2 linked regions of the Homo sapiens genome follow. The protein of the gene in region 2 interacts with the protein of the main gene of each other region in a pairwise test. Each region holds a gene or a part of one and is shown on either strand. Other genes may lie near its edges. The genes, in order: CA2 and DISP3.

Region 1 (3,817 bases), on a different chromosome or scaffold from region 2:
AACTAAATTAAGATGCACTGGAGTAACAGACTAAAGACCGTAATGAATGTCAACAGTTTCTCCTAAGTCCAAAATATAAATAAACTAGTCCCAGTAATCTTTAGTTTAAAAATAAAATTTAAATGATTTCCTACTAATAAAGCAAAAGATTAATTCTACAGAAAACATGTCATTTTCGGTACCATCTTTTCTATAAATAACCTGAAAAATTTTAAATCATGCATTACTGTTTTGCCTGTTGGCAGCAGCCAATAATCCTAGGGCTACGTGCCAATATAGACAAATCTGGGGGGAAAAAATACACGTATTCCATTTGTTTTAAAGCAATAAGATGTTTAGCTGTCACTTTCGCTAGAGTAAACACAGTTGAAATTCAACAGAAGTCGTGGTTTAAACTATGTGGCAATTATATAGGAGTAAAAAAAGAAGCTGTTTTGATGTGAATATAGTAACTACAGTGTTTAGAATATGTTGGTCCATTTTCTAGATATTTAAGGTTCGGCTGACACCATTACTGCGTGCATGACAAGCCCTTTCATTTGTTGTTATGCTTTCTTTTAACTTAGGACTGCTGTGAAAGAAAACTTTTAGAGCTTCAAAAGCAAGTCCCTGAAAGTCAAGCAGGATCCATGTATGAAGATCCATTACGTCATACAGACAATGGGTCACTTAAAAAGAGCACAGGTAAACTCATCCAGCTTCCTTTACTCTTTTCTTGAAATAACAAACAGATTTAAAAAATTCCAATTTCTGAAAAACAGAAATGATGTAAGACTTGGATAAGAGTTGGCCCAATAATTCTGGCATTGACTTTCAATATTTGTCCCTAACTTTGCAATAAAGCAGGAGAGTATTAAACTCATTAATAAAAGTTAATAAGTTAGCAGGAGTTAATAATTTGACTACTATTATTTTCTCCCAGATAAGGCCATTAATAAAACATCTCAAGCAGGGTGAGTTATTTTTTAATAAGTTTTTTAAGAACCTAAAGGGATTAGCAATTTTTCATTAACTTAAGGTGAATTTATGGTGGCTTATTTTCAAAGGAATTTAGAAGATTGATGAGAGCTCTAACCCAAGTTTCTAGTTAAATCCTATTAACTCCGTAGTTTAAAAAATTCTCTCAAGCTTAAATCAGCAATAAAGTCAACCCGCTCAGTTCCTGATACCCAAGTTCTTAAGTTTGGATATAAGAGAACATTTAAAGCATATTGGAAAACCTCAATCTATGAGAAGTTCTAGAAGGCTGAAATCTCATTGAGGCAAAGAAGACAGGTAAATGAACTGCATTTAAATGCAGGAAATAAGAGGTATAGGAAATCTAAAAATGTTACCACCACAAAAATAACTCCTAATAAAAAGAGATGTTAAACTGCCGATTTTTTAAAATTAAGTGACTAAAATAAATAACTTTTTGACTTGTGTACAGAAAAAAATGCCAGCTTTTAAAAAACATGGTATGTATAAACTAAATGTCAAATAAGGTTATCCTTCAAATATTTTTATTCAAAATTCTATTTTTAAGTGATTGCTACTTAGTCCCTCCAGCAAACTAGCAAGGAGACGACTTAGCAAGTTATTTAAACTCTTCAGCTTCTGTTTCTTCATGTTTATTAAGGTGAGTTTAACTAGAGTATCTCTATTCTTTGTTTTGGCTTTGAGAGCCTAGGATTGTTTTATTTAAAAAAAAAAAAAAGAAAGAAAGTCTAAAGGGAGTTTTTCCACATGGTTTTGTGTGTGTGTGTGTGTGGTTTTTTGTTTGTTTGTTTGTTTTGAGATGGAGTCTCGTTCTGTCACCAGGCTGGAGTGCAGTGGTGCGGTCTCGGCTCACTGCGACCTCCGCCTCCCGGGATCCAGCGATTCTCCTGCCTCAGTCTCCTGAGTAGCTGGGATTACAGGCACATGCCACAACACCTAGCTCATTTTTTGCATTTTTAGTACAGACAGTGTTTCACCCTGTTGGCCAGGCTGGTCTTGAACTTCTGACCTCAAGTGATCCGCCCACCTCAGTCTTCCAAAGTGCTGGGACTACAGGCGTGAGCCACCGTGCCTGTCCCCCACATGGTATGATTTTTAAAAATTTATTCTGTAGATGTCTTTTCTCTTAATATTGACATTTTAATATATTCTGCATTCTTGTTTAACCAAAGTAACTGAAAATGTGGAAAAGAGAGGCAAAATTACAAAGGAATCTTTCATATGCAAAGGAGGGCAAGTCCTTTCTGACCTTGCTTTTAGTATACCTTCTTGCCTTTCTGGAGCACATGCTGTGCTCTCTTAAGTCTCCTGGTATTTCCTATCTCCCTTTGCCTGGACTCTCGTCCAAGACATCAAAATCCTTCAAGCCTCCACATAAGCCTTATTTACCCTGGAAAGTCTTTCCTGTCTTATCAGTTAAACTGCCAAGCCTCCTTCACGTTTCCATAGTTCCTTGGAGTACTTCCTTTCTGCACTTATCAAAGTGGCAGTCAGGGTCTACTATTTCTATGTCTTTCTACTTTAGATATTTCCAGCATGGGCTCCGGGGAACAGGAGAGGGACCAGGCCTCCACCCTGCTTTCATGATGCTTAGCTTCCCATGCATTTAAGTGGTGTTAATAATGACTTTTTTGTAGAACTAGGTGGATAATACATGTGTCTCTAAAGGCATGGGTGGGAGCTCCTACCGAAACCCTGTGGTTTTCATCTGTTTCACAATCTAAACATGGCCAACTTCTTTAAAAATGTATGCATTGCTCTCCAGAAGAAATAGCTGTGAAAAATGTAGCTAGATCTAATTAGTTACTGCTTATAGAGAAATCTGTCAAAGTTTAACAGATTCATGGTAAAATATGTAACTATATAATAACTTCATACATAAAATAAGTACATATTCAGTATGATAAACAGTATGCTTCAGAAAATATAAAAATAAAAATTTAAAATACATCAAATGATGGGAACTAATCTTAAAGCTGTTAAAGAAAAAGTTTATTCAGAAATCTTATCGCAGGTGCAACATCTACAGCAATGGTCTAACAGAGGTGGTCGAAGGGTTCAAGTTGTGACAACAACAGAGGCCATTTATTGAGCAACTTCTATGCGCCAGGCACTGGGCTAGGGGCTTTACATATACTGTCCCATTTCATCCTTCCACTGTGGCAGACACTATTGTTACTCCAACTTTACAGTTAAAAACAATTAAAACCTAGACAGTATTACTCCCAAAGTCTCTGAGCTAGTTGCCGGCAGCTCTAGAACTCAAATCCAGGTCTCTCTGACCCCAGTCTATGCTGATAGCCACCAGACCATGTGTTCAAATCCACTTTCCAGTAATACATATTACTAGAATAATTTATTTCACTATCCATTTTTTAAGGACTATTAGGAACCTCATCTGCTTTCATTTGTTGGAGATTTGTTTCTTCAGTGCTCCAAAAAAGACTTAAACTATCCAATTTCTATGTAGCATCCAATGAGATACATAATTTGGCAGACATTACATCCATTGAAAACAATGACATCATTGTGGCTCTTTAAAAAAGTACAGCTACAGACTAAAGTAGCTCACTTCTTTTGGTTTGTAAATGACTAGACGTGAAATGTTATAGTATTCTTTCTGTATGTGTAATACCTTGAGACCTTTGGCCTTGTCTTGTTATAAATATACAGTATTCTTTACAAGAAAAAAATTGTTTAATTTAATTATATGAGCACTGTTCCTTTGGAGTGAGAGGAATGCTTGGGAAAGCAATGTAGCAGAATCACCGAACTGTTTTCAATGTACAACCTTTACTTGATTCTAATAAATCATCATACTATGCCAGAAAGTGTGAGT
Region 2 (3,817 bases):
CCTGGTGTGGACATGCTCAGCACAGATACACATCTGCAAAAGACCCCCACATGCCAGACACTGTCCTTCGGGCTGTCTACCTTGGACCACGGCCTCTGTGCCTCCCCAGTCAGTCCATCCTCCCTCGGAGGAACCAGCTCCCCACACCCCACGCACCTGAAGGCAGGCACTGGGCCCCACCCGGCTTCACCAGCTCGGAGTTGGCTGCGATGGCCTTGCAGAGGTGACACAGGTGCCCAATTTCCTTGAAGAGGTCAAAGCTGCTGTCGTAGACAACACTACCCTTTCCCAAGGAGAAACAAGCCGGCCCGGGCCGCTCAGTGAGACGGGGACTCAGTCCTGGGTGCTCACCCCCAACCCTGGGGCAGAACCTCCAGCAGCTTCCTGCTACCTGTCACCCTCATGTTGGCAGCCTGCAACTGCTCACCCACTGCTCCACCCTAACCCTCTGCCCTGCCCCCGCCAGCAACATCTGCTCCCATCACTGCCCACCCCACACAGGACCCTCTGTTTCACCTCCTCCCCTTCCCTCACCACCTTCTCACCTGGACTTCTTGCTTTTCTCCCCACCCTCCCAGACAGCCACATCCTCACTGTCCTGCAGAACCTGCCTGGTCCCCCCACCCCTGCTCCGAGCGCCTGCAGACACCCAGTGTGGACTGAACACACAGATCTCCTCCGACTCCACCTTGCCCCCGACTTACTCCATGGCTGCCATTCCCGTGTACCCCGCTGGGCTGTGACTAATAAAGGCAAAGGACACCCACCTGTCCTTCCTCCTAGGAATCCTTAGCACCCACTACGTGCCCAGAACAGTCCCGGCTCAAGCAGTGCTTTCAAAAACTGAAGAGCCCCACATTGGACAGGAGTGCATGTGAGGGAGGGAGGCCTCAGAGAGAAAGCCACGGCCGAGCTCAGAGGAAGGGGGAGGGCAAGGAGGAGGGCACGGAGGTGTCCACCTGGATTGCCCTCTCTCCATTCCAGTCCCTCACAGGCATCCAGCTTGGGCCCTAAACCCAGATTCCTGGGTGAATCTAAGAGGTCAACGCCATTGAGTCCTCAAGAAAAACCGGACCCCCAGGGGCCCATAGGGGTTCTGTCTGGGTTAGAGGAGCCATTGAGGAGCCAAGAGGGGGTGTGAGGAGCTGGACATGGTTCCCTGGACAGGTGCTTATTTGCAAGACTGTTGCAGCTGGGGCCCTCGGCATCTGCCCGACGCATGCCCCGTACCGGGTCTCCAATGACGTGGTTGTCCACCTGCCGAGTGCGGTTGACGCCAATAATGCCGAAGACCACAAAGACCATGGCCCCGGTATCCACTAGTGGCCGCACCGCCGGCTTCCCGCAGCCCGTGTTCACGCAGGGGTTGAAGCCGAAGGTGGCTGAGAGACGGGCCTTGGGCACTGCGAACAGGGAGTCACAGCTGTAAGGGAAGGCAGGGTCCAGCTCCTGAGCCCCGAGGTCTCAGCTCTTGAGGTCCCCACCTGTGTGCCCTTGCCGTACCTTTCTCACTAGGCACGAAGAAGAAGCCTTTGGTAGGCCCATCGGGGCTGGAGCTAAGCAGGCAGCCAGGGGGTGCCATGCATACGCGCCCGTGGAAGGGGGGCTTGTGGGACTGGGCGAAGTACAGCTTCCTGTGGAGGGAATGGAGGCTGGGCTGAGGCCGGAAAGGCTAGGAGGAGTCAGGGGAGGTGAGGCCAGCAGGCCAGGGTTGGGACTGGGGCTGGGGTGTCATGGGGTCTGGACTCGGGCTCTGCCCCGGCATGGGGATTTGTTCTCAGGTTGAGGGCTGGGGGATGTGCCCTGGGCTGGGGGTCTGGAGGCTGTTCTAGCCCTGCCCCTGCCAAGGCTGACTATGGGAACCTAGTAAAGGCCCTGCCCCTCTGGGTCTCAGTCTCCCCATAGGAGTCATGAAGGGTGGAGAAGACCAGCAGCTTTCAAACTGTCCCCCGGGGGTACGAGGGTTCAGGAGGGACCCCCAGGGCCAACCCTAGTGGTCCTCGCTCAGAAGCCCCCAGCCTTGCCTCAACCCCAACAGTTAGGGAGTCTCTAGATTCTATAGGAAGGAAGGGCTCCAGTGTCAACAGCTGGCTAACCACTAGACCCAGTGCAGCTCAAAGTTCTTTCTAGAATGTTTCCAGCTCATCCAGGCAGCCTGCCTGACCCCTGGCCCACTGATGTGTCTGTGCAGAGTGAGCCCAGCCTGGGGCTCAGGGGAGGACAGGCAGAGGGGCCCCCACCCCCGAGTCAGGGTCCCAGGCTGGAAGGGACCCAGTGGGTGGCTGTCCTGCCATTCCCTGGCCTCCAAGCTGCAGCCCTCAGCCCCATGCAGAGTTCAGGCTCCTGTGGGTGTTTGACACTCCAAAGCTAGCCCCGTCAGAGACCAGTCTCCATGTGTCACTGAGCCCCATCGGAGACCACAGTCCCCGTGCATCACCAAGTTCTGTCAGAGACCACAGTGCCTGTGTGTCACCGAGCCCCGTCAGAGACCACAGTCCCCGCGTATCACCGAGTTCTGTCAGAGACCACAGTCCCTGTGTGTCACCGAGCATGGCCTTGTACCACTGTTCTCCACAATGACAGTGGGGCTATTTCTTTCAGAGCACGTATCATAGTTTGTAATGATATCGCTGTTTACTTGTTAGTGGCCTGTCTCCCACTAGACAGCTCGAGGGCAGGAGTCACATCTGTCTTTGTCACTACCATATCCCTAGCACAGTGCCAGCACAGTTGAAGCCCACAGTTTGTTAAATCAGTGAACGGCAGAGAGAGGAGACCTTTGGCTAATATGGCCTCCACAGATAAATGGATGCAGGGCTGTGTTTACAACATGGGGAATGAAACCCCAGAAAAGGTGCCCCTGGATGGCGTGGAGATCCCGAGAGCACAGAATGCAGCCTCTGACTCGGCATGTAGTAGGGACCCGACTTCACACTGGGTGCTAGCAGGGACTGGGCCTGTGGCAAGTGAATACAACAGGGGCCCTCCCCTCGCTCTCCTTCCAGCAGAAGGGGCAGGGGCATTAAATAAACATTTTCTGAATTAATGATATATTTAGAGTGTGGGTGAGTGCCTTGTCAAGGAAGTGTGGAGTGTACTCATTCATTCATTCAGCAAGTACTTATTTGTACCTACTACGCCAGACACCCGTGACAGGTGCTGGGGAGGCGGCACCAAATGAGACGGCCAAGGTGCTACCACAGGATGCCTGTGTGCTCCTGTGGGAAGACAGGTAACACTGCAGGTCAGCATGGTGGCAGGTGGCAATGGGGCCAGGAGAGCAGTGGGTGACGTATGGAGAGAGGCTGGATGTGGCACTTGGAGAGGGACAGCCTCTCCCAAGAGGTGACTTTTGGACAGGGACTTGAATCTTGAGAAGTTGTCTCACACTTGAGGAGCTGGGAAAAGCATTCTAGGCACAGAGAGCAGTAAATGCAAAGGGCCTGAGATGGAAAGGGGCCTGGTATGCCAGAGGGACAGCCAGGTGGCCACTGCAACCCCTGAGGAGCTATCAAGGTGGGGAGCAGCTCCCGGGCCCGTCTCTTTGCCAATGTTCTCCACTCCCCAGCCCTGGGCAGAGACCCATCTGAGCAGGTAGGTGGAAATGGACAGCAGTTTCTTTTTCTCTTTTTTTTTTTTTTTGAGATGGAGTCTCGCTCTGTTGCCCAGGCTGGAGTGCAGAGGCGCGATCTCGGCTCACTGCAACCTCTGCCTCTGGGTTCAAGTGATTCTCCTGCCTCAGCCTCCTGAGTAGCTGGGATTACAGGTGCGTGCCACCATGCCTGGCTAATTTTTTGTATTTTTAGTAGAGAAGGAG

What was found.
Region 1: the proteins of DISP3 (region 2) and CA2 interact in a two-hybrid assay, tested with the Homo sapiens proteins (one large-scale study listed by IntAct).

The regions. Positions count from the first base shown.
Region 1 is NC_000008.11:85,466,716-85,470,532, reverse strand, and holds part of CA2 (carbonic anhydrase 2), read right to left. Parts: intron 1-3,817. UniProt on the Homo sapiens protein: Catalyzes the reversible hydration of carbon dioxide. Can also hydrate cyanamide to urea. Stimulates the chloride-bicarbonate exchange activity of SLC26A6. Essential for bone resorption and osteoclast differentiation.
Region 2 is NC_000001.11:11,527,373-11,531,189, reverse strand, and holds part of DISP3 (protein dispatched homolog 3), read right to left. Parts: intron 3,219-3,817; coding exon of another isoform or gene 3,122-3,218; exon of another isoform or gene 1,635-3,121; coding exon 1,504-1,634; intron 1,424-1,503; coding exon of another isoform or gene 1,404-1,423; coding exon 1,231-1,403; intron 284-1,230; coding exon 157-283; intron 1-156. UniProt on the Homo sapiens protein: Plays a role in neuronal proliferation and differentiation. Plays a role in the accumulation of cellular cholesterol. Involved in intracellular lipid droplet formation. May contribute to cholesterol homeostasis in neuronal cells.